Linked DNA regions of Homo sapiens: region 2 is linked to region 1. A link means that fine-mapping ties the variant in region 1 to the expression of a gene that starts in the linked region. Tissue or cell type: NK cells. Region 1 holds a variant in brackets; the other region holds the start of a gene. All regions are shown on one strand. Distances are from middle to middle. Region 1 overlaps CASC2 (cancer susceptibility 2). Region 2 holds the start of RAB11FIP2 (RAB11 family interacting protein 2).

What was found.
Region 2: RAB11FIP2 starts here. The variant in region 1 is fine-mapped to the expression of RAB11FIP2 in NK cells (Gilchrist 2021, PIP 0.95).

The regions. Positions count from the first base shown.
Region 1 is chr10:118,078,338-118,083,722 of GRCh38, forward strand. All of the region lies in intron 3 of CASC2 (cancer susceptibility 2), which reads left to right. Among named protein-coding and RNA genes, the nearest start is that of RAB11FIP2, 34 kb to the left of the region's middle. The variant T/C (reference allele first, on the strand shown) is at 2,900.
Region 2 is chr10:118,044,497-118,049,881 of GRCh38, forward strand. It overlaps RAB11FIP2 (RAB11 family interacting protein 2), which reads right to left and starts at 2,445. Exons shown (of 5, transcript NM_014904.3): 1 at 1,315-2,445. The coding sequence starts at 1,667. It overlaps CASC2 (cancer susceptibility 2), which reads left to right and starts at 2,325. Exons shown (of 4, transcript NR_026940.1): 1 at 2,325-2,607; 2 at 5,016-5,121. RefSeq lists a silencer at 1,883-2,372.

The sequences.
Region 1 (5,385 bases):
TGTCGCTAAAGATTAAAGAGGATTAATGCCCATTCTAACAATTTGTAAATATCACTACATTTAAATATTCTAAATTGCTTATACTTAACCAGGATTAAAAGGAATGACCTCTTAAGATTCACAATTTTTTTTTTTTTGCTTTATTTCTCTGACAAAAACTATTTTTGGAAATAAGGTTTATCCTGCAAGCTTTACCAAAGTGGTAATTTCAATAGAAAGTCAAAGAAAACATGACGTCCAAAGAACCACCAAGCTGTAGGCAACAATATTTATAGGCACTCAGATTCATGCACATTCTTTTCAGGCTACAAAAGGCCTGTTATCCCACTTGGGGTAAGCTAGTCTTGAATACTGATTTGAAGTATCACAACGAGTGACAATTGCTTCCTAGCTACTCCACTTTGTTATATGCTTATCTCTGGAGTATGTTCCATCTCAAGCATGGCTCATGGCTACTGGCCTATTTAGATTGAAAACAAGAGAAAGGCAGCATGTGTCTTCCACTGTAATCTGTGACACCACAGCAGTTTCCCTGGTAGGGATGTACAGAGTAACCCTGCAGAACTCACAGGTTATAACAAACTGCTGCTCTGTTACCCCAGAGGAGATTAAGTGATGATCTGGAAGACAAAAATCCCATCTTATTTTGTTACCAAAACCCAATCTTAAGAATTAAATACTTATGAGGTCGGGCGCGGTGGCTCACGCCTGTAATCCCAGCACTTCGGGAGGCCGAGGCGGGCGGATCACGAGGTCAGGAGATCAAGACCATCTTGGCTAACACGGTGAAACCCCGTCTCTACTAAAAATACAAAAAATTAGCCAGGTGTGGTGGCGGGCGCCTGTAGTCCCAGCTACTCCGGAGGCTGAGGCAGGAGAATGGCGGGAACCCGGGAGGCGGAGCTTGCAGTGAGCCGAGATCGCGCCGTTGCACTCCAGCCTGGGCTACAGAGCCAGCCTGGGCTACAGAGCGAGACTCCGTCTCAAAAAAAAAAAAAAAAAAAAAAAAAAAAAAAAAAAATTAAATACTTCTGGGGAAAAGCCATAACATTCCAAAAGACAATTTATTATAATAGATATGCTATTACATTAAAGACAATTGCAGCCTTCTAATTCATTCTTAGTTTAAATGTATCATGGTTGAGGGAAAAAGGCTAGGTTAATAATATGAACACATTTTTATCAACATGAATCTGAAATGTTTTTGAAAAGCCTGTTATATAGATTATTAGAAAGGTTAGATTTTCCAAAAGGTTAATATTTATTTTTAACAAGAATGATTTCTTAAATTATAGTTTTAAAACGTTAATAATTGCCAGTGGTTTCAAATAGACTTCCTTTTATCAGGGAGCTGGGATCTTTTGGTTCACTAGACCTCCTTGATCTTAGGCTGTATAAATTGTTTAGTTTTATTTGGTGCCATAGGGACTCCTTCAAACTTATCAGAAGCCTCAGTTTAATACAGAAAAAGAGAGGCTCAGACATGTCAATATAATACTGTTAATGTTTTCCACGTTTGTGATTTCAGGGTCAAAGTCAAACCTCTTATTGTATTAATAATAGCAAAGCAAAAATAGGCTTTGTAGTTGTGAATTCATGGTTTTAAAGAATAATTTCCCTATGTTTTTATTAATTCAAGCCATCCATTGAACCACTCAAGGATTCCATTATGTATTTGAATGATGTATCTCATACTGTACCTTTAACTTTGGAAGACTATGAGAATGGATATGCGTGTGATTCTTTACAGTCATCAACATAGGATATTTCCTTTGTTCAAAAGTTATGTTAATTAATAACATTAAAAGTTATATTTAGTAAAATAAACTTTAGAGCTTAGCAGTAAAATAATTAAAAGCCAGTTTTCCTCTACTCATTATTTAAAAGAGCATGGTTTGCAAGTTAGTTCATATGCTATGCATTATGAAGCATGGCCATATATTCTGGATTCTTTTACTATCTGATTTGTAGACCCAGCAATAATCAGAATTTTAATAAAAAAGTTCCAGAGAAAACCCAGAAAGCCTCAGCTTACCAAGCGCTTTCCTTTTGAGAGTGTATTGAATCCACGTTCCATTCAGCACTGATTAGTGGTAAAACTAAACCAAAGCTGTCGGCGTATTGCAAAAGGCCTTTGCTTGACCAAAGCTCTTGTTTAAGACAAAGCTGCCATTGATGTCCACCCCAGGTGACAAGGGGTGAGAATGGAGTGACTTGGCAGCTTCTTTTTCTACCTGTGGGTCTTGCCCTTCTGTCATTCCCACCTGACACCCTTCCCCACCTTAAACTTGATATTGGTGGATGGGAGCAGGAATTCACAATGCAGCTAAAATAAAGATGCTCAAAGCTCCCTCTTCTGTATGGCAGACCTGGATTGTGTGCCTTTGAGAGGGGCAAGCTTGTCTTTCCTATTCCCTAAGAAATATATCCTTACCTAGCCAAACCTATTTCCCCTTCCTGAGGGCCTATGCAGGCATGCACAACACAGCAGTGTTCTACGTTAGATTTTGCACCAGGGTTCACTCAGGGTCTGCTGGTGGCTGTGAGAAGAACCTCTCAGCTGGAATGGTTCATGAGTGAATGGTAAAGCCTAGGTTTCAATTACTTTGGAGAATGGAACGTTTCTTAGCTTTCTTTCCTCATGAACTTCGTGGTATCATTTGTCATGCCATTTTGCCAGCTATGCACTTTTTTACATAGTTTTGTTTGGTTTGCAACTCACGAATATCAATCAAAGAAGTTGTTTCATTTTTAAGAAATGGCAAAGAATATCTTGCCTCCTTCTGTTGTTTCATAGGTGAGTTATATGGCATGTGGAAGCTGAGAATTCAAACTCAATTCATGCTAACTCTTTCCTAAAATTAGGAGAACATTTCTGATTATAACTCATTTCCCTATT[T/C]ACAAGGTCAAACATTTTGACTTGTAAGGTACCAAACAAATATCATGCTTCTGCGTTTGCCAGATTATGTTCTAAAGATATTGACTGGTACATTGTGGTCAAATAATTTTGGGAACAGTGGGTTAAAGAGAGGTAGAGATGTTTCTTTACTGAGTCTTAGAGGCACTACACCAAAGTGGTTAGGAGTGTGGACTCCAGAGACCCCACTGTGATCTAACTTTTGATTCCACCACTGACTAAATGTGTGATCTTGGGCAAGTCAATATCTCTGCACCTCAATTTCCTCATCTGCAAAATGGAGTCAGAAATAGGGCATATCTCTCAGAGTAGTTGTGAGAATTACTTCCATTGATATATATCGTATATATAAAGCCCTTAGAACAGAGCCTGACACAAGATAAGCACCATGTATGCCCTGTATTAGCTATTATTGCTATAATTATCAAGTTTCTAAAGGGGAGATAAAGCAGTCAGTCTTTCCCAGTCTTACCTATTTGTCCATCCATCCATCCATCCATCCATCCATCCATCCATCCATCCAATTCTCTTCTGACCAATATAAACAGCCTGAAGTGAGAGAGAGAGAGAGAGAGAGAGAGTTTGAAAAGTAACTAAAAATTGCATCCTCGTTTGTATTATCTATTACTGCTGCCTGCTTTTATTGGGTATTTGCTTATTCACTTTTTCTTGTTTTAAAGAATGGATCAGAACACAATTTGAGGGCTATCCCATAGAAAGATTGAAATATTACATTATTTATCAATTAATTCCTGCAGGCTTCCCCAAAGTCCTCTCTCTCACTCGAGAATGGACATTTTGCAAACAGAAATCACAAATATACTAATGTCCTTTATTTATTAGCCAAATTTTGTTTGAGTGCCTGCTGTGTGCCAGGGACTGTTCTGGGCACTGGGGACACAGCAATGAGTGAAATAGACAAACATCCCATGTTTCATGGAGCTTAGATTCTGTCAGTAACCAATAAGCAGCTCTAGAAACCAATAATGAAGCCACAATCAAGTCATCAAGTCCGCTACATTTCTCAAGGCTTCTGAATACATTAAAAAAATGAACAAATTGCAAAATCAGATTTCCTAAATGTTAGTGTATTTCAAATGATATTTTATAAATTATTGCGTGTAGCACAAAATAAATAGAATAACAGAATATTTAATCTCTTTTAGAAATAATCTCAAAAGTAAAGAAGTATGAGACCTCAGCTGGGCCATAAGGGGCTCTTGTAGGCGCCCCCCCAACACCCGTACCTACTGACCTTATCCCACCCCAAACTTATGCTGGGTTTAAGTCTTGGTTAAAACTCAATGAACTAATCTGCCATTTTTCAGCTAAAATAATGAAGGTTTTTTTCCCTCTCAGCCTTTGTTCAGGGTAAATTTCTTAGACATATAGTTTGTTTTTTATCTACACTAGTTTTTTTAGTTTAAGGAGCCTATAAAATAGCATATCAACATTAAAGCCTTACATCAAATCAGAAAAAGACAGACGTGCAATTTTTTAAAAATTTTAAAGAGATATGGAGCCATATATGTCTCTGTCTCAGACTAGAATCAAGCACTGAAATATGACATATACGATGACTGCAATTCAACTCACTAATGTTTTGTTCCTGACATGCAATTTTGGTACATGATAACATTGAGTAGTTGTTTTGTTTTTAATTACAAATATAAAAAATGACACTTAACCAGGCTGGATGTTGGACTTTTAGATAATTTTAAGATAGGGAAATTGTGAATACACAAATATTTAGTGTGTTTGGTTAATAAACTCAGAAGTATATAATTTTTCTAATATTTTAACTTGTGTTTTCTTCTTCTTTTTTTTTTTTTTTTTTTTGACAGAGTTTCACTCTTGTTGCCCAGGCGGGAGTGCAATGGCGCCATCTCGGCTCACTGCAACCTCTGCCTCCTGGGTTCAAGCAATTCTGCTGCCTCAGCCTCCCGAGTAGCTGGGATTACAGGCATGTGCCACCACGTCTGGCTAATTTTGTTTTTTCAGTAGAGACAGGGTTTCTCCATGTTGGTCAGCCTGGTCTTGAACTCCCGACCTCAAGTGATCCGCCTGCCTCGTCCTCTCAAAGTGCTGGGATTACAGGCGTGAGCCACCACGTCTGGCCTGAGCCACTGCACTAGGCCGTGTTTGCTTCTTTGGTTATCTGATCAACACCAAGATCAAGCATTTTATATCTTTGGGAAATGCAGGACCTCAGAATTATAAATTTTTAGAGTTAGAAGGGGGGCTTGAAGACCCTCTCATTGGACCCACTCCTTTTACAAATGGGGAAACATAAGACCAGAGTGGGTAGGATCAGTTGTCTTTTGATTGAATTACAATTTTTGTCATGAGCAGAATATTTTATTTAGGTCTTACATAAAATAAGATCCTTGTATCCTACTAAAACCTTCTGTATTATGCATCAAATCATCAAAGTGTCAGTGAACCTGCCAAGCAGAAAGTAATGTTAA
Region 2 (5,385 bases), 34 kb before region 1:
TATTCAAATCACTGATATATATTAAACTTTACATTTAACTTTTTCTCTCCTTCTAAAATATTTTCATCTCAATTAAATGGTACCATTTTTCCTCCTGCATTCCTAGTATTTCTGATCTCTCTACACTTTTACTCCACATATATTAAATCTTAGGTTAAGACCTGATTTAAAATGAAACAAAAAAACTCCAATCAAGAGAAGCCTGAGAGTAGAAATGTACAGAAAAGAACAAGAGAGAGTCGTTTTAAAATGTAAAGAATTAACATAAACTTCAAGAAAAATATCATTGTAAGAAAGTTTTTTAAAGAGTAAATAAATTCAATTATAACTGAACAAAACACCAACACTATTTTGGAAATGGAAAGTCCTCTTAGAAGTTCAACCAGTATTTTTCTCTCACTAATTTCATTAATATAATGTCCTTTTAAGTTTATGGAAGGGGTGAGTATACTTAACTCTAAAAACATATTTTTTTTCAATTTAAGACACAATATCCTAGTGTTAATTTATATTATGATTTTTTAAATTAAAATGTATCTAACTCAAGCTCAAAAGTCATACTGAAAAGACCACTGAAGATGTTATCAAATCATTTCATCACAAAAATTTATCATTCTCTCCATCCTACAGCATTTAATATGGTCTAAACACAATAGCTTTGGAAAATCAATTCTGAATACAATAACTCTGATGTAATTGCAAATTCAAAGGAAAATGTAAGTGCATTCGAAGTTGAGGATGTCTGTACATACTTTTAAAACTTTTTTTTTTTCTAACAGGTATAGACTCCCATCAAGGCACACTGACCCTGAAAAATGGCTGAGCTAAAATAAAAGCTGTGTTTATAACGCTGAAACGAAATACTGAGTTCTAAATCTGGTGATTTATCTTTTGACAGCTACAAAGTGCGACACATCAACATTACATTGCCAGATTTAATTTCTCATCTTCCATTTCATTGATAATTGTAAGGTTTAAAATCCATAACAATTTATATGAAGTTCTAGTTGGTCAATACTGTGATCCAGTCCTCATACTGAAACAATGTTAACTTACTTAAAATCCACCACAAAATATTCAATTATTTGACAGATGTTTAACAGAAAGAATAAGGGATCATTAATGATTCCATTTAAAAAATATTTCATCACGAGTGCTACTTTTACTTCAGATTCATGCAAATATGGTGCTTAAAACTGGATCATATTTCAATCCAAAAACCAACGCCCGAAGTATACGGATAATTTCCAAGAACAGAAAAACCATAAATAAGATATAAACTCCCCCAAATTCAAAATAAATTACATAACTTACTCTGTTTTCCTTCTTTGTTTGTCCTCAAAGATGTCATTGAGATTGATTGCCACCTGCCCTAAAAATTTATCCAGACCCACCAGGGACCTGTGCATAACTATAAGGAAAAGAATGTATTTCTCTGGACTTCCCTGAATTAGCAATCCAGGTAGCTCGAAAGAGGCCTCCTCCTTCCAAACTGGCTCAAGGGTTTTCTCAGCTACAGAGGTGGAGTACTTTTCCTTGCCCAGCTGAATTATAGTGTATGTGTCATTGGTACCACTTTTGCCTTTTGGCTTCAGATCTTTGGCTTGGAGCACTGTGACCTGCACGTGGGTTGGAAACCACTTTTGGGCTTGCTCGGACAGCATCATCCTGTCCTGTTTCTCTGCCCCCGAGTTCCCTAGCACAGGCAGTGCCCCTCCCGGAGGGAGAGCCTAATTCCTTAATCACTGCATCCTAAGGACACTTAACGGAAACAGGCAGGCTCAGGGCTCCCCGACTTCCCTATGGCTGATGTCAAAACGCCTCGCGGGGGCAGCCCAGGGGCACGGCCGCTCCGGGGGTCCCCTTTCGTCTGGAGAAACACAGAGGCCCACCATCACCTGGCCGCGCCGTGCAGGCCTCTGCGCGGACCCCCGCCCCTGTCTCCACCTTCCCCAGGCCTGCGGGGCACGTGAGGCCTGGCCACACGGACCCGGGCGGAGGGCTGCGGGGGTGAAGGGAGCCCCCGCCCCAATTCTGCACCCCTGGCCTCCCGCCTGCCTCCTTGCGGCCGAGCAGCCTCCGCTGCCTCCGCGCCTCCCGCCCGCCCGGCGTTCGTCCGCAGGCTCGGCCCGGCTCCTCCTCCCGACCCCGGTAATACGAACCGCCGGCGGCTAACGCGGCCTCGCTCCCTCTCGCAAACCTCTCCCTCCTCCTCCTCCCCCTCGCCTCAGCTCCTCCTCTCGGGCGGGAGCGGGTAGCCAGGGGTGGAGTGGGGGAGGGCGGGGAACGCGGCCGCCCCGGCGCCGGCGGGACGTGGGGCGGGCAGCGGGCTGCAGGGCTGCGGGCGCTTGGTTCGGCCTGGCCCGGCCGGCGGCTCCTAACACCGGGCGGGCGGCTGCGGCGGCACTTCCGGGTTGGCCTTCTCCATGTTGGTCTCGGGAACGTGAAGGGGCGGGGCCTCGAGGTCAGGGGTCAGCACCTCCCTGGTTGCCGTGGCGACTGGAGGCGCGCGACGCGGGCGCAATGGCGGGGACCCGGGGCTTGATGCTGCTTGGGCCTGGCCCAGTGGCGGGTCCTAGGGACGTGGGTACCTGCAGAGGCCGGCAGGTGAGCCCTGGGGAGGGCTGGGGACCGCTCGTGAGAGGAGGTCATCAAAGACCCGGAGACGCCCCTAACTAGGGCGTCTTTGAGGGCAGGGGATCTGTGTTCGCTGTGTCCTGGATGCCCAGTGCCTGGCAGGAGCAGGTCCATAAATGGTGTTGGAACGAATCAGGCCTCTTCACTGACCGAAAGGAAACTTTTCTCCAATCTCCTATCCACCCTTCTCTTTTTGAAAAGTCCGTAAATTGACTGAAAATGACATCCCCCACCCAGACGAAGGGCGATAGGGAAGCAAATAGTTTCCACAGGGAGTAGAGATGTAGGGAGGCACTGGGCTGGCATCAGAAGACCTGGTTCCGGCCGCGCCTCTGCCGCTATCAGTGTGTGTGACCTTGGCCGAGTCATTTCACCTCCATGAGCCTCAGTGTTTTCACGAGTAAAAAAGCCAGTTCTACCTCATGTCTAAGACTCCATCACGACTCTATGGGCTCGACGTCAAAAGGACCCCCGTGGGGACTCACACTGTGGTGGACTGTGCAAATCATGTGGAGACCATGCCCCAAACACGGGTTTCGAGTTTCAGGGGATAATACATGTGCCTTTCCTAGCACAATGCGGCACATAAATCTCCTTTTGCCCCTCTATTTCTCAATTGGAAGAGACGCTTATGTACCACCCCATTGCTGTTAATTCTGTTCGTGTCTTACCTTCCCAAGGAAATTCTAAGTTTTGGGACTGCCTTGTCTATCATGCAGTCCCTTCATAGTGGCTAGCATGCAGCAGACAATTTACTGAATTACTTAATGCCTTTTTTCCCTTTACAAGACTAATTTTGAGAGTAAAACAATATGATACATGTAAATGCACGTTTTTTTAACTTAAATGGCCATAAACATGTAAAGTATCGTGTTTATTATTTTCAAGCAAGGTTTAAAACTTCTCATTCAAGGCAGAATTTTTCATCCCTGGGAGACAGTGTATGAAAAGGCCATGTGTGGAAAACAGAACAAAATCATCGTACTGCGAATATAGCATCTGGATCCCAGAGTGCACAGTTGTCAACTTTAAAGAAAAATATTCTTAGGGATTTTTAAACAGTACGTTGGAACAGTCAATGGTGGAATTTCACCAGGATCTCTAAGGAGAAATAATTTGACACCTGAAACTTACAAAAACCAAATAAACATCATGAAATCAAATTTAATTAAGTTTAGAGTTCTTATACATTTTAAAAGTCTTCATGTCTCTATTAAAGGTTGTAATTAAACAATAGAAAATTATAATAGTGGATGTGTATTTCTGAAGAGCTTAAATTGGTAAGCTTTATTAATGATTATAAACTTGTTTACAAATATAATTTCACTCATCTCTGAAATATAGCCATCTCTAGGGTAGAAGTTGGCAGCAGTAGTTCACAGCAACTCAATAACATACTCCAACACAACTCAGAGAATACTCTAAAGGCAAGAGCTGAACAATTGGAATTACTAACCTCTCTTTCTGTAGCACCTAAATTTCTTTTGAGTTTTCCCAACAGCTGGCTAGAGCCAAAATTGTTTAGTTTTACTGGTGAAATCAGAAATTATGACTTAAAATTTTTTAAGCCAGAATAAGAAAATAACATATTTTTGCCCCCGGGGAAAGCAAATAAACAAACAAACCAAATGAGCTAAATAGAATCTGGGATTGCATTATAATAAGGAAATGACTTCCTATAGAATGTTTTCCTTTTTTGATTATATTAAGAGAATAAAAATATGACAGTGGAGTCAAAGATATGGTTGGCTTATAGTGAAAAATAATGACAATTACATAAGATCTGGGATCAAAGTGCTTCTCCCAAAATGTTTATTGTTTTACAGTTTTAAAAATTCTTTTGACTAATTCTAAGATATACATGGACAACAATTTAAAAAGGAAAGGATTGCGTGTGTAAGGACAACATACCAGAATTGAAGAGAGTCACTTTTTAAAAAATTATCCTATGACTAATGATACATCCGGAAATGTATGGTACAATTCCAAAATCAAAGTCTTGGGAAAATAATATATTTTAGAAGGAAAATGCTGAACATTCTAATTTTAAACTGTTAACAATGCCTACAGCAATGAATAAGAATGCTTTGACCAGAAAGTTAAAATAGTCAATATTTATTCCCCATGAGTAGAGGATTTCACAGATGAAAATATTTACTACATGTTGCCCCTTTCAGTCCCATAAAGAATAAGTCCCATAAGGAGACCTATTCCAGACATTGGGGGAGATTTTCCCTTTGGACAAAGGCATCTCTAAAATCACATCTTGCAAATCTGTTGCAGAACAATTATAATGCTCTCATGTTTAAATAGCCCACTGGGTCAAGCGTGTTAATGCTCCCATGTACATTATGTAATGGATATTAATTATTTTCCAGATGGAGATTCAGAAACATAAGGACAACAAGAAACTTCCCCAAGGTATCATTATAGTCTTTAGACTTCAGACACACACCACACCTCAAATATATACACAACTGAAAGGTATGTAAAATTCATATATATGTACATATGACAAAGCCCCAGAGTTATATTGGAGATACATAGATAGATGATAGATAGATAGATAGATAGATAGATAGATAGATAGATAGATAGATCAATCTCCTTGTAATCGGTTGAAAAGTGAAAGAGTATTTGGCAAATTGACTTGAAATTATTATGGCAATGAACTGGCATTTGGGGATTTTTGGGGATTGTTTTGTTTTGTTTTCATCGCTGGACTGATCAATTTCTCTTCTGGGATTG